4 separate regions of the Homo sapiens genome follow, and regions 1, 3 and 4 are each linked to region 2. The links come from fine-mapping of genetic effects on gene expression. A gene starts in region 2. Each other region holds a variant in brackets. All regions are shown on one strand. Distances are from middle to middle. Region 1 has its middle 110 kb from the start of TRIB2. Region 2 holds the start of TRIB2 (tribbles pseudokinase 2). Region 3 holds the start of MIR3681HG (MIR3681 host gene). Region 4 has its middle 37 kb from the start of TRIB2.

Evidence for each region.
Region 1: its variant is fine-mapped to the expression of TRIB2 in whole blood (TOPMed, PIP 0.94).
Region 3: its variant is fine-mapped to the expression of TRIB2 in whole blood (TOPMed, PIP above 0.99).
Region 4: its variant is fine-mapped to the expression of TRIB2 in whole blood (TOPMed, PIP 0.95).

Annotation. Positions count from the first base shown.
Region 1 is chr2:12,606,614-12,611,765 of GRCh38, reverse strand. No RefSeq gene overlaps it. Among named protein-coding and RNA genes, the nearest start is that of TRIB2, 110 kb to the left of the region's middle. RefSeq lists a silencer at 4,357-4,557. The variant G/C (reference allele first, on the strand shown) is at 2,889.
Region 2 is chr2:12,713,897-12,719,048 of GRCh38, reverse strand. TRIB2 (tribbles pseudokinase 2) reads right to left here and starts at 2,113. Exons shown (of 3, transcript NM_021643.4): 1 at 472-2,113. The coding sequence starts at 741. It overlaps LOC124905974 (a long non-coding RNA gene), which reads left to right and starts at 2,291. Exons shown (of 2, transcript XR_007086222.1): 1 at 2,291-5,152. RefSeq lists enhancers at 1-284, 1,646-1,715, 1,564-2,203 and silencers at 2,156-2,215, 2,306-2,525.
Region 3 is chr2:12,004,032-12,009,183 of GRCh38, reverse strand. MIR3681HG (MIR3681 host gene) reads right to left here and starts at 2,068. Exons shown (of 6, transcript NR_110196.1): 1 at 1,957-2,068; 2 at 1,341-1,437. RefSeq lists enhancers at 506-555, 1,987-2,281, 2,790-2,839. The variant C/G (reference allele first, on the strand shown) is at 3,094.
Region 4 is chr2:12,677,286-12,682,437 of GRCh38, reverse strand. No RefSeq gene overlaps it. Among named protein-coding and RNA genes, the nearest start is that of TRIB2, 37 kb to the left of the region's middle. The variant A/G (reference allele first, on the strand shown) is at 2,678.

The DNA of each region.
Region 1 (5,152 bases), 110 kb after region 2:
GTCAATTTCTGAAGTCCCTATTCTGTTCTATTGATCTGTCTTTCTGTATATTTGCACTAATACCACACTGTCTGGATAACTGCATTTTTATAATAAGTATTAAATTCAGGGAGTGGTAGTCTTTCAAATTTATTCTGCTTTTAAAATTTGTTTTGGCAATTATTGGTCCTTTGCAGTTTTATATGAATTTTGAAATCAATATGTTGATTACTACTAAAATATTTTTGGGGGTTTTGATTGGATTGCTTTGAATCTACAGGGTAATTTGGGAACAAATTTATGTTTTAATAATATTGAGTCTTCTGACCTATGAACAAGGTGTATCTCTCTACTTATTTAGATCCTCTTTATCTGTGCAATGTTTTAATTTTCAGTATAGAGGACTTTCATATATTTTATAATTATCATTATGAAACTATTTTTGTCATTTCTAGCAATATCATTTTCTCTAAAATCTACTTTGGTATTAACATAGCCAAAACAGCTTTATTTTGAGGAGTGTTAACATGATATATCTTCTTCTATCCTTTCACATTTAACTTATTTATGTTTTTACATTTAAACTGTATTTTCTTAAAGGCAGCATATATCTTACTATGTTTTTTTCATAAAATATGACAATTTCTGTCTTTCAGTGCAGTTTTCTAAACTATTTAAATTTAAGGCACTTATTTCTATAGTTAGGTTCAAGTCTAGCATCTTGCTATTTAAAAAAAATTCTGTTTTTTTGTTCCCATTTTCTTCTTTCTCTGCTTTTAGTTTGGATTAATTGTGCATTTTTGGGGATTCAATTTTATCTCTTCTGCCTGCTTAGCTATAACTCATTGTTTTGTTATTTTAGTGGCTGCTTTAAGATTTAACTTATCACATTTGACCTAAAGATAATATTTACTACTTCACATGTGGTATAAGAACCTTAACAAAATGTTTTCATTTCTCCTGTCTGAGACTTTATATATTTTACTTACGCATGTTATTATGTATACTATTATTTTTATTAACAATCAATTATCTTGTAAAGAGATTTAAATGCTAAAAAGTTTATACTTCCCCATGTAGTAGTCATTTTTAGGCCACTGATTCCTCTGTCTAGACTTATATTTGCATGTGACATTATTTTCCTTCTGTCCAAAAGACTCCTTTTAACATTTTTAGTGTATGTGTCTGCTGGTGATGAGGCTTTCTACTCATTTATTTCTGAAAGCATTTTGTTTCCTTTTTGTCTTTTGAAAGATATTTTTGCTGAGTATAGAATTTATGGTGGAAAATATTTTTCCTATCAGTAATTTAAAGATGTTGTTGGCTCCATTGTCTTCTTGCTTGTATTATTTCTGATAAGAAATATGCTTTCATTTTTTTCTTTGTTCCTGTGTATAAAATGCAACTTATTTTTTTCTGGCTGTTTTAAGGTTTTTCTCTTAATGGATGGTTTTGCACAATTTGGTGACAATATGCATCAGTGTAGTTTTCTTCACATTTCCTAGATTTATAGGTTTGTAATTTCATCAATTTTGAAAATGTTTTGGCAAATTTGTCTTTGTATATCTTTTCTGTTCCCTCTGCTTTTTTTTCCCCCTTCTACTCAAGGGACTTCAAACTATATATTGAGCTGCTTAAAGTAGTCCTATACGTCACTAACATTCTTTTTTTATTTTAATTTTTTAAATTAGACTTCTTTCAGTGGTTCATTTTATTTTTTATATTGCTATTTCTTTAAATTTACTAATCCTTTCTTCCAAATTTTTTAGTCTGACATTAATCTTATCCAAAGTACTTTCATATCACACATTATCATGTTCCTTCTACAAGTTCGATTTGCTTTTTTTTTTTTTTTTTGAGACGGAGATCTTGCTCTGTCCTCAGGCTGGAGTGCAGTGGTGCGATCTGGGCTCACTGCAACCTCCGCCCCCCTTGTTGAAGTTTCTGTCTCGTAATAACTGTGTTCTTTTTTGGGGGGGTGGGGGGCGGGGGACGGAGTCTCGCTCTGTTGCCCAGGCTGGAGTGCAGTGGCGCGATCTCGGCTCGCCGCAAGCTCCGCCTCCCGGGTTCATGCCATTCTCCTGCCTCAGCCTCTCGAGTAGCTGGGACTACAGGTGCGCGCCACCAGGCCCGGCTAACTTTTTTGTATTTTAGTAGAGACGGGGTTTCACGATGTTGGCCAGGATGGTCTCGATCTCCTGACCTTGTGATCCACCCACCTCGGCCGACCAAAGTGCTGGGATTACAGGCGTGAGCCACTGCGCCTGGCCAACTTGCCTTTTTTTAAAAATAATCTTCTATGTCTTTACTTAAGCCTATGAATATATGGACTGCATGTATAATGACTGCTTGAATGTCATTGTTTGCTAATTCTAACATATGTGTCAGTTCTGGATCAGAATCTTTGATTTGATACCCAATATTATAAATTTTACCTTGTTGAATGCTGGGTTTTTTAAAAAATCATAATATTCTTGAGATTTATGCTAGGATGCCATTTTTACTTGGGAAAAGTTTGCCCCTTTAGAGTCTTGCTTTTATCATTTGTTAGGAAGACCCAGAGCATTTTAGAGCTAATTACTTTCCATTATTGAAGCAAGATTTTCCTGAGTATTCTACGCAATGTCCAGGGAATAATGAGATTCTTCAATCTGGTTGGTGGAAACAGGCAGTATTTCCAGACCTGTATGAGTGCTGAGTACTCTTTCTTTTCATCTTTTGGATGGTTCTTGCTCCAGCCTTGGTGCATGGCTTGGTCAGTATTCTGCTGAAAATGTAAGAGGGTCCCAGCCTTGGTGCATGGCTTGGTCAGTATTCTGCTGAAAATGTAAGAGGGTCCCTTGCATTTCTCCAGGATTCTTTCTATATATGATTTTCTTCTCTTCAGTACTTTGTTCCACAAACTCTAG[G/C]TTCCTTGGTATCCCTGAAATCTCAGCTTTGTTTCTTCATCCATGGAGTCCACCCGGTTCTTCCTTGGTGTTCTCCCTCTGCATCATGGTCTGCAGACTCTCTCAAGGTAGTAAGAGAATCGCAGGATTTATTTCATTTGTTTTCTGTTTTGCATTGATCACTGTCTTTCATTGCCCAATGTTTAGGGTCTTGAAAATCCTTTCTTTCACATTTTCTTTCACATTTTTTGTTCATTTAATTTTTTATTTTCAGGTAGCATTGTAAACCCAGTATTGTTTTTCCATCTTGTCAACATGTGAAAGATAAATTGTATTACTTTTGATCCACACAATTATATCTCCAATATTATAATAAAAGCCAAAAATCAAATATAATTCAATATATATTTGTTTTTCATGCAACTCTTCAGAATTACATACATATGGGTGCATTTGGGATGATAATTACCAGGGAGGTCTAGTTCGGTTTTCCTTTTTGATTTTATCTGGGTCCAGCTAAAATTCCATTACGATTGTTCTGAGGACAAAGCATTATTGATCTGTGGCATGTAAGAATTAATTTTGTATTAAATTAAGTTCTAACAATCATTAAATAGGTGACACTTTTGTGGTACCCTGAGTCACTGGGGAAATGCAGCACTTTGGAGATACGCAACCTGGGAAGTCACTATGACTCAGAGACCTCAGTCTCTCACAGGCCTGCTGAAGAGCCACATTCAAAGAAGGTGCTCAACAAATATTGAGTGAACTAATCAGTGAAGATCATATGACCGTAAAGTGATGAGACTGGTTATTTGGTATGCATATGCAAATGGTGAAGGAGAAGCCTCCTGTGGAGGAAAAAAACAGATCTTGGGCTCAGAGAGAATTAGGATCTAATTGTAGTTCCTTATTTAACAGGTAAGTGAAAAACAAGTTTAAAAAATCCAAGCTTTATTGTTGTCATCTTTAAAATGAGATAACATTGTCTATCTCACAATATTATTAAAAAGATAATATCGGATGTGTATAAGATACACCCAACATAGAGTATGGTAAACATTAGGCATCCAATTAATGCAAGTTGTCGCTTCTATAGACCACCCCCCTGTGGAAGGTAAAACCTTTGCACTGTCATTGCTCACAAATGTGTAAGAGACTGATCAAAAGTAGGGAGGAAAAGAGTTGCAATTTCTTCACTGATGTTAAATCTTTGAGAATGAATTTGATTTTATAAAGAGCCAAACATCATTCAAAACAAAAGCAAGTAAATAAGTGAAGTGACTTATCAATGGGGATAAAAATGAATAAACACAAAAGGATGTGACGATAAAATCATGTCACACAAATTCAAGTGATTCATAAGCAAGCCTTATATCATTTCCCGATTTGGAAACTATAAGTGTTCCTAGGATTACTACACCATAGGAATAAGTTTTCCTCCCTCTTGAAGGAAGATCCTGGAAATAAACACACTCATGTGGATATATACCTCCTGCTCTGTTTTTTAGAAAGGAAAAAAGACATGAAACTATCTCATTTTGTTACTATCTGATGACCCCTTTTACAACCTTGTTTCAGTCTATGATGCCTTTTTATATATGTTGGTTTGTAATCAGACGAAACAGAAATTCAGATAAGCTTTAAGTGACTTGCCTATGATCATACATGGGTAACTCTCAGCAGTGGATTTTGAACCTAAATTGCGCTTTTCCCACCATGCTACCTATCCTTTTTTTGTACCCTACTCTAAAAATGTTTTATTTTCAGAACAAATTAATGCTAGTCAATCAACTGATAAGTGAAAATATTTAGGGAAGCAAGTAATACTATAAATTATTACTATTATCATTATTAATTTTTATTCCCAATGTTTCAAGATGGAGATAAACTTAATCTGCATGCATTCTTAAAGAGTGACTTCAGTTCTGTGTAGCTGGGTCTTGGCAGTTGGGAAAACACCCACAGTGACTTTAGTGAGATTTTGAATCATTTTATCTCTGGAGTCTCCCGTGGCTTTGTAGGTTCAGACAGAATGCAGTGAGAACTGCCTTTCCCACCCTCTTTCTTTAGCAAATTCAGACTCAGAGTGCGGGGATGCTCCAGCTGCATCCAATTAAACTCCCCCAAACAGGAAGGAAAAGGAGCTGACTACAGTTGCTGCAGAAACATTGAACAGTCTCATTTCCACAGACGGTTCAGCCTCCTCACCAGGACACACTCAGACCATGTCGTGTAGAAAGTCCATGCTCCAGAATAAAGCACTTTTAACAACTGGAGCATTG
Region 2 (5,152 bases):
TTTTAAAGGGCACCTTCGGAACAAAGGTTTAACACCTGCCCGCTGCTAAGAACAATGGCTGCGAAAAGAACGAAGTCATCAGTCTTAAAATTACCGGGGGATTCCCTAATCCTTGTTGGAAGGGGAGGGGGCTAGACACAGGAAGAAATCCCCCCCGGGCAGCGGGACCCGGCCTCGCGCAGAGAGCTCCTGGAGCCTTCGGTGCACGCGTGTCCGTGGCCCCCGCGCAGTCCCGCCGCCCTCTCCTCCCCGGGCTCTCCCCGAAACGCCCCCACTGCCGCCCGCCCCATTGTCTGAAACGGTCTAAAAACTTCGCAACTTACCGAACCTGAGCAAATAAATAAATAAACCCATTTAATAAGGCCACGGTAATTATCCCGCGAATCTCCCTCTCCCAGACTCGAGGGCCTGGCGCCCTCCCGCTCCCTCGGGCCCCTTCCAAAGACAAAAAGCAACCCACTGGCCCTTTACCTTGCACACCAGCTCCTCTCCGCTGTGCAGATGCACGGCACGAAAAACGTGGTCTCCCTCCAGAGGTTCCAACAATAAGTATTTCCCGATACAAGAAACGCAATGCGACAAGTTCGGAGTCTCGGGCGGGCTCGGGGAGCCGAGGTTCGGGCTGAAACTCTGGCTGGGCTCCGCGGACCTTATAGACGACAACTCTTCGAAATCCTGGGTTTTGTTCCGCGATCTCCCATATCTCGCTATTGTGATGGGGGTAGACCTGTGTATGTTCATGAGTGTGAGGATCGCACACGACAAACAAAAAAAAACCCGCTGGAGAGATGAGTCGCTGGCGAGTGCGGCTGCAGGCGCCTCGGTGCCACTGATTTTAAAAGGGAGCGAGAGGGGAGGGGACAGAAGAGGGGCTGCGTGGAGAAAGAGTTAGAAGCCCCCAAATGGGCGCCGCCGGATACCTCGTCTGCTCCGAGCCCGGCTCCCGGGGGTCCTCGGTCGGCAGGCAACTCGGGTCTTTTTGTTACCCCAAAGCAGTCGGCGATGTGCAGAATCGCCGCACTTTTAGTTACTCTGTGTGTGTGTCCCCGGCGTGGATCTGGATGAGTACCCGGGCTGCTAAGGTGCGGAGCTGCAGCGCCAGGGCTCCCGACGCGACCCCCAGGCCGGCTTCCGAATCGCAGACGGGGCGGAGGAGCCCGCGGTAGTTTGTGCAGTCTTCGGGGAGCTCACGGCGGCGACTCAGTCCCAACGCGTTAGAAGCCAAACAAAAAGAGAAAGGAAACAAGCACGGGTCTACCGGCTGGCGACGCACGGCAGCCAGAATCCGCGCTGCACCCCCTTTTTTTGGTGGAAAGGGTGGGGGGCGTGTAAGGGGGGGGTGCGGGAGAGGGCAGTTACCTACGTTTTAACTGTAGATGGCGTCTGAGGCTTTTCCAAGATCGCGAGCTCTCCAAAAATTAAACAAACAAACAAAAAAAAGAAAAATTGCAAGGGAGCATTTAACTTGGTGCGGTCAGCGCTGCCAACAAAAGATTGCAAAAGCTGGGCACAGAGTTGCGGCGCGGGCTGGGCGCAGGTACCGCGACAAAGCCCTGGGCTCGGCCCGCCGCGCGGAGGTCAGCACAGGCTCATGCTGTCGCCGCTCGCTCGCGCCCCAGGTCTTCCTCCGAATGCAGCCAGACGTGCAGGAGAGAACGAGGACAGATCGGCGGTCTCCGATTTCGCCGGCACGAGCTTGCGGGGGTCCTGCGGGCGCTGCAAGGGGAGCTGCGTCCCTGGCCCTTCCAACGCGCGGCGTTCCTTTGCCCCTTTCCCGCTGGAGAACTGGATCTCGTCCTGGAATAATTTGCAATCACCCCGTCTCCCCCTACCCCGAGACCAAATTGCCCGGTGGGGTTTGTTTTGGAGAAAATTGACGGCTTGTCTCCTCCTTCTTTGATTTCTTGCTTGCCCCCCCCAGAGAAAAGAGGGGACCGTGTATTTAAAAATTAAAGGGGACGGCCGACGGTGCCCGAGGCCAATCCCCGCGCTCAGCACGCCCGCATCCCCCGGCGAGGCGGTATTAATAGTTACTTACGTGGCCGGGGATCTCGGAGCGAGCGGGGCCGTGAGTGCGCGTGTGCGCGCGCGCGCCTCGCTCGCGCTCGGTCTCCCCATTCAATGTCACCGACACATTTCCACGGAGCCTCCGCCCCCCCCCCGCCGCCCCCGCGACTGGCTCAGCCCAGAGCCGGCCCCGCCCCGCCCCCGCCCGGGCCCCCCTCATTGCGCCGGGCGCCCATCAATCAGCCCCGCCGCTGCCAGTCCTCGGGCGGCTCCCCGCGCCGCTGCCATTGCAGCTCCGTGCCGGGGGCGCCAGCACCGGCCTCGCAGCTCCCTCGCCCGGCCGGGGAGGTAAACAAAGTGAAATATCCTTCCGCGGCCCGGGGCCCCGGGCGCAGCACCCTGGGTGTCGGCTGCGAGCCGGCTGCGAGCCCAGCTGCGGGCGGCTGGGCCGGGGTTACCAGCAGCGACTCCCGAGCCGTTCCCCACACGCTGCTCCCGCAGCGCCCGCTCCAGCTCTTCGTAGCTCGTTCATGTTCCTGGCGCTTTTCCCCAGAAAGCCAGGCACGCTCTGAGCATTGGGCCCCCAGGCTCAGATGTGGCCCTGAATGAGGAGCTCTGTTTTGGAAGAATGCGCTTTCATCGGTATTGCTGCCTGGAGTTTCGAGAATTCGTTTCATGGTATCTCTCCGACATCCTCCTCTCCATTTAAAAGGAAATCCATTGCTTCCTTTTAGTTGGTGTCACCGCTTGCCCCCGATCCCCACATCCTGGGCTTGTATTTCTAGTGTTTTCAGCAGAAGAGGAACTGAAGGCATCTTTTGATTCAGGTCAAATTTAATCACTAATTCTTCCCTTCCCAGTGCATTGCCTGGAGGGCCTTGGAGGCCAAGCTAGACAAAACTTTGCACCCACACCTCCAGGGAGCGCTGTTGGGTCCTATCCAGGGTGCTGGGCGTCCTGAGTCCTCTTCTGTTAGCCAGGTGAAGGCTGCAGTTTCACGCCCCACTCCACCCCCCATTTCGCCACCCCCCCCGAATTATTCGTAACTTCCTTGGGAGATTCCAGTCCGCGGGCTTGGACAGGAACACCGGAAGCAAGGGGCTTGAACTCAGGCAGAGGCTTCAAACGCCAGCCTTGATCTAAGATATCCTGGTGAATGAGAAGCGATCTAGTAGAGGACAAACTTAAAAAAAAAAATCCCAAGGAACTGAGAAAGGGGAGTTGGGACGACTCCTGGAGCCCTCTGAGCTTTTGCATGCGTGTAGTATATTTTCCACTGGAGGAGGGGACTAAATTATTGTCCACTGTAGGACACTTTCAGTAAAAGAAGGGAGCTATTTATAATTATGTCCACTTGGGACAACAGTCACTCTAATGATCAGGAGTCCTGGGAATGTGGCCAGAGATGGAGAGGACATTGACTATAAAGCTTCCACCCAGCAGCACAGAGTTAAAAGGAAGGTTAAGAAGTGGACCCGTGCCTTCCAGCACCTCTCACCATCCTACTCCCCACAAACCTGCCTAGGATTCAGTCCCAGATCCCAGCAGAATAGATCTATTTCCCTAGGCGATCACCAGGACCACTGACCGAGCAGGGTCCCCTAATCCAGTCTTACCCCAGGAAGACACTTGGCCTGTGTTAGGAACAGTCTCGAAGCAACCCCTGCTGTTGAGTCAGAAAGAGAGGTGCCTAGCCTCCTCTATGCAGTGGCCAAGAGAGCTTTGTAATAATTAGGGGTTGGGACACCTGTGTGCTAGCCCTGGCTGGGTCTCTGATTTCAAATGGAAATTGGGTGAAGACCTTGTTTTTTCTCCCTAGATCCCTGTTTCTTCATCTGTAAGATGAGAAGCATAATACCCGCCCTGCTCACCTCATGTGGTTGCTTTAGAATTATATTTTCAATTCCAGGAAATCTATGAAGGCTTACTATAAGCCGGGCTCTGTGCTGAGTGTTAGGGATCCAATATGAGTAAGATCTGGTCTCTGCCACCCAAGAGCGCAGGGTCTAGCCCGGCAGAAAGACTGGGAAACAAATAATGTCATTGTGTAACAATGTGGCAATTAGAATATCAAGGCCTCAAGGGAGCATGGAGGAGGGAATGACTTTTCCTGAACGTCAGGGAGTTTTCCCAGAAAATGTGATTTTTATTACCTTGAACTAATCCAGAGCAAATATTTATTGAAACCTACTATGTGCCAGACACTGGATATGAAGATACAATGATTTGAAAAATATATTTCCTGTCTTCATGGACCTTGAAATAGCCCTATGAGTCATAAAATAAAATGAATAAGAGATTGTTGTTGGCATTTCAGGCAGAGGGAAGGAATGTGGAAAAGCAAGGGAGTGGGATGTTCTGAAATTTCTAGTAATGCACCATGTTCCAGCAGTGGCAGCTGGGAGCAGTGGCCAGGCATGTGGCTGGCAAAGTGGACTGATTGGGATTAGATCGGGAAGGGGTTGATAGACACAACTAGCAACAGTGGTCTTCCTAGTAGAGGAGATGGCGAAGCACGGCTGACATTGGGAAGTGACACGGTCGTTTGTGGGATTTAGATCCTGCTGCAGATCACAGGGAGTAGATACTACTGGGCTTCCAAGGAAAGAGAGAGCAGAAATAGTATAAACCTCTAGTGATGCTGTACAGGATTAATAGTGAATTTATGACTTGTGATGAAATTACACAGTGGCCATTCTCCTGCCTGTCCTTGAAGGCCAAATTCATGGCTTAGTGCTATGTTTGTTGATTAAATTCACGGAGCTATTGCAGTGCAGGATAAATTAGATAATTTGTATCAAGTGCCTTAAATATTTGTTATGTCTGTTAACTCGGTAATTCTTAGCAAATTGGAAAAGAAAAAAGCATGTAGTAGGAAGATCTGGGTGGGGATCTTTATTCATTCACTTTTTAGCCATATGACTTTGGTCAAGTTTGGAATATTTTAATCTATAAAGTGAAATTACAATAGAAATTTTGTCTTAATGTATAGCAATTATGGAAGATGTGTATAAAGCATCTGGCACAATGTCTTGCCTATAATAAAAACTCAAGGCCGGGTGTGGTGGCTCACACCTGTAATCCCAGCACTTTGGGAGGCCAAAGCGAGCCGATCACGAGGTCAAGAGATCGAGACCATCCTGGC
Region 3 (5,152 bases), 710 kb after region 2:
TTGAAATGCAGATAATAGGATCAACAGATTCAGAAATATTATAAAAATATTCAAAATATCAACCGCTTGGAACACAGCAGATATTCAAATGTTTTAAGTATAGTGTTTATTATCCAGATAGAGGAGTATATTCGTTTTCTAGTGTTGCCACAAGCACCATAGACTGGTTGGATTAAACCAAAAGAAAATGTATTTTCTTACAATTCTGGAGGCTACAAGTCCACCATCAAAGTGTCAGCACGGCCGGTTTCTTCTGAGGCCTTTCTGTGGCTTGCAGATGGTAAATATACCACAAATTTTCTCTGAATGAGTCAACATGAATGAGGAAGCAGAAAGTGATATCTTTCTTTTATGAAATGAATTATGTCCCCAAAATTCATATGTCAAAGCCTTAACCCCCAATGTGACTGTGTTTGGAGACAGGGCCTTCACAGAGTTAATGAAGGTTATTAGTGTGGGGTCCTAGTCTGCTAGGACTGATGTCCTTATAAGAAGAGATTTGGGTACAGACATGCATGCCCACAAAGACAAGACCATGGGAAGACACAGCAATAAGATGGCTGTCTACAAACCAAGCAGGAACCAGCCCTGCCAGAAATTGGAAAGATGCAATCCTCGATCTTGGATTTTTAGCCAAAAATAAATTTCTGTTGTTGAATCCACCCCGTCTATAGTATTTTGTTATGGCCACCCTAACAAACGAATATACTTCCTTTCTAAGGAAATGGGTCAAAAACAAAATTTAAAAAAAAAAAAGGAAATCTAGATTTTTCACCTATTTGGTGACTTTAGGTTGTGTTCTCTACCATATGTCAAGAAGTTAAGAAGGAAAAAGTAAAAGTAGTTAAATGTGCAGCCTGGGCAACATGGCAAGACCCTATCTCTACAAAAAATTAAAAAACTAGCCAGGTGTGGTGGCATGCACCTGTCATCACAGCTACTCAGGAGACTGAAGTGGGAGAATCAGGAGCCCGGGAGGTCATGGCTGCAGCGAGCCATGTTTGTGCCATTGCATTCCAGCCTCAGCAACAGAGCAAGACCCTGTCTCAAAAAAAAAAAAAAAAAAGGAGTCCAATGTGTAGCCAATACGTTTGTATGTGGCTGTGTGTAGAGATGTGTGCTTAAAGCTAAAGGAGTTACTAAGATATCCGATATTCATCCTTTTTATATTTTCTAAAAAATATTCATTGAGAAGACTAGCCATGTGCTAGCCACCATGCTTATAATGTATTGTTTACTTTAATCTTGTCCTTTTCCTTATAATCCTACCAGTGTTAGGAATTCATAGCCCCATTTCCACTCTAGAAAAAAATAAAAGACTCACACTTTATGTGACTTACCCAAGGTCAGGGAACTGGCATGGGACAGAGCACAGTTTCCAACACAGGCCTCTCCAGCTTCAAAGACTGCATACACATCCAGCACATGTCCTTGCCTCTGTAATATAAGAAGAATTGCAAATGTTTCACACCACAGTATACCCAGATCTGTTCAAAACACATGTTAACTCATCTACGGCTCTGTGCCTAGCCCTTTAAGGTAGGTACTATTATTTTTTATAATCCCCATTTTACAGATGAAAAAATGTGTTGAGGAACTCAGCCTGGGTCCCACACTTCATCTTATTAAATTAACAAACAGCATGTGGCAGAGCTGATCTCTGCACCCAGCTCAAGGACAGTGTGATCATCACCTGCATGTGTTTGGCTTCCAAATGAGGGAAATGAACCCAATGGCCCTTTGCACCCTTTCCACCCCTGGGATTTTATTGCTCTGACTTCAACTGATCAACAAAACAGACAAGACTAAATGTTAACATGTTTTTAAACACATAGAGACTCTTCTCTTAGAGGGGAGGGAAATTAACCCTCCTTTAACACAAAATTTGACCTCAATTAACCAAAAATTTTTGTTCTGTGTTTTTACGGAGACCATTGTCATAGCTGAGAAACCCACCAATAGCTAAGCATATTTAGCCACAGAAACTCCTACAGTAACTATGGCTCTTGTGAGCCAGGCCTCATCATGGCTGTGTCAATTTCCCTCTGCACTGAGTGAGGGGTCCCGGAACACAAAGGCAGAGGCCGCCTGGTTCCAACCTTCGATTACGTCATCCTGATGGAATGTGGACACCATTGTGAGGACTTTCTGCTTAAGCCTTGTTTTATTTAAGTTTCTAACATTCTTGGAGACTTAAATCTCATCTACAGTTGCTTGGAATCCAGGCTTCAGTTGGATTATTGAAGGGATGCAGTAAACTTATCCTCCTAAAAGCTGAACTCAGCAAATGGTTAAGCCAAAGCTATCCTGCCCCAAGGCTCAAAGCAAATCTTTCAGCTCATTACATTTAAAAGATTGCTAGCAGTCAGCAGCCTTTAGATTTATGTAACACTAAGTTATACACAGTAAAAGCATGTGCTAGTTACATAACAATGTTCACATGAATGGTTAAAATGGGACAGGTAAATCAGATGCAGAAAACCAGGACAAAAAGGCTCCCAGCAGCTTTAAAATATATTGTTTAAATTCATAGCAAGGAGATAATTTTTTTCCTTTTCTCTCCAACAATGACAGACATTTACCGAGTGCTCACAAAAGGCCAGGCATTTCTGCAACACGGGTCAGTAGAAGGAGCAAAGCCTTTGGAGTGAGGTTCAAGTGTAATTGGTATGTGACACTTGGCAAGTTTCTCCAGCCTCAGTTTACCCATCCACAAAATGGAGCTAGCCATGCCTACCTTATAGAATCAATGTGAGAATTAAATGAATCATGTTGCCAAGTGTCTGACATAAAATATATGCTCAATAAAGACCAGTTTCTTAGTCTGCTGCTCTTAGCTGATTTGGTCTAATACCCTGCAAGCCTGGGAATGTGGTATTATTATAATCCCCGTTTACCAGGTAAGGAAACTGGAGGTCTCTGCCAGGGTGACGTTGCTGTCATGGGGCAGAGGGGCTTTAATACATAACTCATTAGAGGCATATCTCAATTTTGCAACTCACAAACCTGCAGTTTGTGCAGGTCTTTCAGCTTCTCTGCTTTTCCTCTGGCTGCCTGCCATTTGGCACTTTCCCTGCTAATTAGCACCTCGAC[C/G]ACAGTACAGCAGGGGAAATCCAAAAGGGTGAGCTTCGGTTAGTAGCTGAATCATGTGGTTTAAGAGCTCTAGGGGAGAGACTTTTCTTTTTTTAAGTTTGGTAAAGAAAGAGATGGCATCTAAGCAGTGACACGAATATTTTTAATTATATTTGGAATTCAGTTCTCTATTATCGTGGCCTCCCACTAATAGGTAATTGAGAATGGATCATTATATTTAAGAAGCTGTCTGATCTTCAAGGTGATTAAACTTTATTTATATGCTGAGACTTTAAGTGAGAATGTGTCTCAAAATCATATCAGAATTCCTATTCATCTTAGCTATTACCACCAAATTGCACTTCTCTGTATTTATGATATGAAATTCACATGTCAAAGTTCTAGCCCCTAATGTGACTGTATTTGAAGACAGAGCCTTTACAGGCTTAGTTAAGGTTATAAGTGTGGGGTCCTAGTCCAATAGGGCTGGTGTCCTTACAAGAAGAGGACATTTGGCTGGAGACATGCATGCCTCTGAGACAAGACCATGTGAAGACACAGCAATAAGATGGCCATCTACAAACCAAGGAAGTAGGTCTCAGGAAAAACCAGCCCTGCTGGCACCTTGATCTTGGACTGTCAGCCGCCTTTCTGCAAGAAAATAAATTTCTGTTGTTGCAGCCGCCCAGTCAGTGGTATTTTGTTATGGCAGCCCTAGCAAAGTAATATACTTCCTTTCTAAGGAAATTAGTCAAAAAAAAAGGAAACCTCTCTGTCCCTTCATTTTCTAACCTGTAAAATCAGGAAAATATTAGTTCCTCATTCACAAGGGCATTGTGAGGACAAAATACATTATCATTTAGTATTCAGAATAGTACCAGAAATATTCATAAGCACTTTAAAAGTGTTTTATTATTGTCAATATCGTTACCACTAATAGCACTACCATCACGTCTACCACCACCGAGAAACCTAGATTGTAACATACAAAAGACATGGAGCATTCTGGGACAATGGACGGAAAATTACGTGGACAGAATCATTTGCAATTATTGCTCCCCAGGTCCAGACTCACCTGGGCATCCCTTCCCAGCCCAGGTCCCAGGTGCCTGGCTTCCATCCTGACCCTACGGGACAGTGGCAAGTTACTCACTACGAATCCACATCAGGCTTCACCAGGCCTCAATGAGGGCCAGGCTGACTGCCAACCCCAGGGAGTTTGTTCTAGAAGAATTTACCTATAAAACATGAGTAAGGTCCATCTCATGAGCCCTCATTTCCTTCTCTAAGGTTTACATCAAGGACTGAAACATTCGCTCAGTGACAAACCCCTTCCCTATCCACCAGCCTACGGTCTCATCCCAAATTCCCCAAAGTATAATCCCAAAGCAGTCTGACCTGGATGTTTTTCTCAAAGTCTCTGCTATTCAGTCCTATCATGGACACCACATTAAATACAGTTTCCAAGTTTTATACAATTAAAAGATAACACTTTAATAATGAGAAGTCGACAGTGGTTATGAGTTTTGTTAATATTGCATTTAAGATTCTGCAGGAATCTTAAATTTACCACAGAAACCAAATAGACTTGTCATCCAGAAATTATAACTCTGGCGGTGTTTTTGTAACTATGCGCAAGGCTGCATGCAGTGGGATGTTCCAACTCTTTTTTTTTTTTTTTTTTTTTTTTTGAGACAGAGTCTCACTCTGTCACCCAGGCTGGAGTGCAGTGGCCCGATCTTGGCTCACTGCAACCTCCGCTTTCCAGGTTCAAGTGATTCTCCTGCCTCGGCCTCCCAAGTAGCTGAGATTACAGGCATGTGCTACCATGCCCGGCTAATTTTTTTGTATTTTTAGTAGAGTTGAGGATTCACCACATTGGCCAAGCTGGTCTCAAACTCCTGACCTCAAATGATCCGCCTGCCTCGGCCTCCCAAAGTGCTGGGATTACAAGTGTGAGCCACTGTGCCCAGCCCATTCCAACTCTTTCTAAGAAACAGTTATCAAAAATCTGTTTGTTTCTTCTGAAATATAAAAACAGCAATTTGCTATTTTTATCAATTCCATCTTTTCTGGGCCT
Region 4 (5,152 bases), 37 kb after region 2:
TCTGTTGTTGTTATTTTCTTCTGACTCTTCCGGTTTTCCTCCATGCCTTCCTTAAATTACTCCCAGGCCCTGCCTCGTGTCTTATGGGTCCCTCCCTGAGAAGTATATTGGCTGGGGAAAAGCTCTGAGGGAGCAGAGCATGCATTAGACACAGAAGGGTTGGCTTCTCCCATCTTCTTGTCCTTTGACTTTTGCATATGTGGCCCTCCCCATCTCATCAGCTGCTAGCCTGGAGCTCCGGAGGGTGGAGTCTCCTCCATGCCTTGCAGGGTGCTGCGTGCAGCAGGTGCTCAAGGCTGCGGAGTCAGGATTTGAAGCTGAGCTCCAGTATGAGACACTGGGGAAGGTCTTAATTCCCAAATTCCATTTTCCCATCAGAATAATGGAATGGGGTTTTCAAATATCAACTCTGCACAGTTTTTATGGGAAGAACCCATTGTTATTGCAGTCCATGAGGCATGTGCCTGGAGCAATGTAAGTTTTGATTTTTCCTTTTTTTTAATACATGATTCCTGCCTGGATTACTGAAGCAGCCTCCTAAGGGCCTCCCTGCTTTGACTCTCAGCTCCCACTGTGTCTCTCAACATACCAGCCAGAGTGATCTTTTCACACCGCAAGTTGGGATCTCCATGCCGCATCTTGCTCCCAGCCTCACCATGGCACGCGTTCCACCTGGGATGAACACTAAACTCATTCCAGAAGCCTTCAAAGCTCTGTGTGGTCCAGTTTTTTCCATTTTGACTCTTCCCTTTGTGTCTTGTTTACTCTTCCCCAATGTGGCTCACCCCTGCCTTTGGGCCTTCCCATTTACTGTCTAGAGACTCTGCCCCACTGCCCATATGGTGAACCCCTCATGACCTGCAAGCCCTGAGGCCTCCTCTGACACCTCCATTAAAATTGCAGCTCTGCCAGGTGTGATGGCTCACACCTGTAATCCCAGCACTTTGGGAGGCCGAGGTGGGTGGATCACGAGGACAAGAGATTGAGACCATCCTGGCCAACATGGTGAAACCCCATCTCTACTAAAAATACAAAAATTAGCTGGGCGTGGTGGTGCATGCCTGTAGTCCCAGCTACTCGGGAGGCTGAGGCAGGAGAATAGCTTGAACTCGGGAGGCGGAGGTTGCAGTGAGCTGAGCTCTCGCCATTGCGGTCTAGCCTGGCGACAGAGCAAGACTCAAAAGAAAAAAAAAAAAAGAAAGAAAATTTCAGCAAACCCCCTACACCTTGCCCAATACCCTGGCATCTCTAATCCGGCTTCCTTCATTGGTGAAATGTAGCCTTCCTTATCTGCCCTAGCATGTGGCATCTTCTCACATCCTAGATCATTCTCACAGGGCTAGGTATGATTCCCTAGAATCCATTTCAGCTGGTGAGAGACCGAGTGGTGGTTCTACTCTTCCCAGCAGGTGGCAGGGCCCTCTTGGGGCTTCTGTGTCTTCATCACCCCTGTGAAAGGGCTGGTCTCTATGAGCTTCAACTTCCCTTTGGAGTTTAAATTCCATTGTGCTGCCCATACACACATTTTGAGAAGCCATTTGCTCTACAACTGGGGAGAACATGTATTTCTTTTCCCACATCTGTCCCTATTGTCAGGCTGGAAGGTGAGAGTCTAAATCCACAAGTGAAGGAATGCAACATGGGAAGTGTCTCAAAGAACATCTCCAGAGGGACAGGATGCTCAGTGGAGTGGGCTGACCTCTCCCCGCTGGTGCCCAGGGCTCTCTCTTCACTGCGGTTCCTAATGTGGCTGCTTCATTGACTGTGTGGAGGGAGAACAGGATGCTGAGATGACCAGAGGGCGAGTCAAACTTGCAAACCTCTAAAGGAACGTCCAAGCTCCCCAGCCATTCATCCATTCATCTGCCTATTCAATGATTTGTTCATTCTTTCCTCCAGATTATAGTCCCTTAGACACCAAACGTCTTTAAAGGTATCCCTGGTATTTCTTATGGCTCCTTGATATGGTTTTGCTGTGTCCCCACCCAAATCTCATCTTGAATTTCCACATGTTGTGAGAGGGACCCAGTGGGAGGTAACTGAATCATGGGTGCAAGTCTTTCTCATGCTGTTCTCATGATAGTGAATAAGTCTCATGAGATCTGATGGTAATATAAGGGGGAGTTTCCCTGCTCAAGCTCTCTCTTTGCCTGCTGCCATCCATGTAAGATGTGACTTGCTTCTCCTTGTGTTCTGCCATGATTGTGAGGCCTCCTCAGCCATATGGAGCTGTGAGTCCAATTAAACCTCTTTCTTTTGTAAATTTCCCAGTCTCAAATATGTCTTTATCAGCAGCATGAAAACGGACTAATACACTCCTCTTAAACCCTTAGCTATGTAATTTTTGTTGTCCCCTCTCTGAGCCACCATTTATGCCGTTTGCTTAACTTCTGTGCACACCTCCATGCTTTTATCTGTCACGGTCTTCACCACTCTTGTCAGTGCCTGTGGCAGAGCCCAGCCAGGCTCACTAATAACAAGGAGCTCCCTCCATTGACCAGCCGTCCTTGCCCTGGGCTAGTTGTGCGAATAACCTGGCCTAAGGACCCTGGATGAGAATGGCATGACATGCATCCCTTCCAGATGAGGTGACCTCCCAACACACTCTGCTCTCCATCTGCCAGCTGATGACAGTAGCTCAGCTCCTGCCAGAAAATGGTGGGAATGGTGCAGGCAC[A/G]TAATAGAAACAGCAGAGGTCCCTTGGCAACCACCTAGAGGACAGCTACTTTGTGGAGTGCTGCCCAAGGGAGTCATACACCTGTGTGGTGAGTGAGGAACAAGCTTTGGCCACAGAAGCCACTGTCAATTTTGTGGTTATTTGTAAACAGGTCATTCATCCTGCAAATACATTCATCTATAAGTACACGTGCTGGGTATCATGCTAAGCACAGGGTTTATAATGATGAATAAGACAAGCCTAGAACTTGCCCACTGGGAGCCCGTAGCTTAGCAGGACAGACAGATTTGACTCAGCTCTCGTGGGATGTCCGCAAGGTTCTGAAGAGGAATTATGCAGAGAGAGAATGGGAGCTCAGACTGTGGTGTCGAAGGTGAGGTACCAGTGCGACTGGAGCCAGCCTGAGGTTCCAGATGGATTCCCTGAGCAAGTAACATCTGAGCTAAGATCTGAAGGATGACGGCACTGGAGAGTGGAAGGGGGGAAGCTTTCAGGATCAGGGGCTGTGTGTACGGTGCCCAGGCTGAGTGGGGGAACTGGGGACACTGAAGGAAGGCCGATAGGGTCACCTGCGTGTGCAGGAAATTTAGTACAGTGCCTTGCTCATAATAGGGATTAATAAATGTTTGCCTAATATATCACTACATGAATGAACGTACCATTTAACTAAAAATTGAAAAAGATCAAAGGAAACAGAAGCAAGAAAATGAATAAAAATTTGGGGGTAAAGGGTGGCTTCTCAAATAAAAAAAATCACAAATCTATATCTATACAAAAAGAGGTATATGAGGAGTGTCTCTATTTAGTATCTCCCTCAATCCCAACCCCATTGCGGTTAGAGGGAGGCAATGCAAAAGGCTTTCCTAATCTATTTTTTATGACTTGAAGCTATCAGGGGCCTAGGCTGTATTTCCACTCCAGTTAGAGGGATCCTCTAGAGCCTGAGTCTCTCTCTCTGTAGGCACTGGGAAGCAAAATCTGATTCACAAGCAGAGGAGAGGAGAGTTTGCTTTTCACATATTCTACAGAATTGAAAAAAATTGATTGGTGGATCTTTATGAAAAATCTGGGCAGGTGTTTGAGAGAAGATACAGCAATCTATTTCTAGTCTCCCACACTGCCACAATGGAGTAACCCCCTGTGCTATTTGGTGATTAATGATCACATAGTTTATATTTTATAACATAAACCCTCAGAGTTTCCTTTATGTAATGACAATAGACTATCCACAGCTACCTTTGTGGAACCTAAAAATGTCATTGCTTGGGGCCAGATGTAATGTGCAATAAATAATTTAACAAGAAAGATATCTTCATTCTATTTACAGTAAGCTAGAATTCATCTCCGTGGTCAATGTGAAACACCACTTAGTGGATAGGCAAATTCCAACTATAACTCCAGTGTAACCCGATTCATACTGAAAGGCCTCCAACAATTCCAAAGATATTTTTATATACATCTTGGAAGTTCTTGGGCCCTCAACATTAGCATATGTCTTCTTTTTTCTCCTGGCTTTATTTTTTTTACTCCAAATTAATTCAGCCCTTGATATGCATGCCTATTTGTTTGTATCTTTGAATGCATGTCTCACCTTCTAAAATGCTTTGTATAGAAGCTGTGGCATCTTATTCCCTAGCTGTGATGTTAACGTTATATGACTAAAGAGCTTGCAGATTCCACGTGCTCACCATAATAATTCAAATAGGAAGTAAATATATGGAAACCAAGCTTCAGAGGGCTCTAGACATTCTCAAGGGGACCTAATTGGTGCTCTCTTACGGTCAAAATATTTAATAAGCACCTGTTACATTCAAGATGTTGTAGTTACAATGGGCACTGGGTTATGATGCTGGCAAAGTCAGAGGTTGCCCTTGACCTCATCAAATTTACATTGCACTGGGAAAGACAGCCATTGGCTGCAAGTGATTTTGTAACAGCTGTCGCTGGGATTGCAGAGGTGCACAAGGTAACTGCAAACATGGAGTCAAGTGGCCTGGTGAGTACTGGAGGCCAGGGAAAGCCTCTCTGGGGAAGTGGCATGCAAAGTTGGAGTTAATTTAGTCCATTTTGAGTAAAGGGACTAGCAAGTGCAAAGGCCCTGCAGCAGGACCCGCTTGAGCACTGAAAGAAGATCTGCATTAAGTGGCAGAGGTGTTCTACAAATCCATGCCTTTTGATGTCAACTGTCATACTCTTTCCCTGTTATAATGAAGGGATCTGGGAGCATTTGCCCTGGTTGTGGCCTGAGAAGATGACCTCTACCTTTCAGAAAAAAAGGTTTTTTCACTCTTGAGCCACAGACTACTTTGGAGCATGACAGACAACTCATAACAATTCTTGGAAAACACACCCAGGGCCTCCTTAATTAATGGCAAATGACAGTAGTGTCTATTTCTTGGAATGGAAGGGAAGCAATAATGAGAAAAATCCACTGAGTAATATTAACTCACATTTTGATAGCACTTTCCTATATAA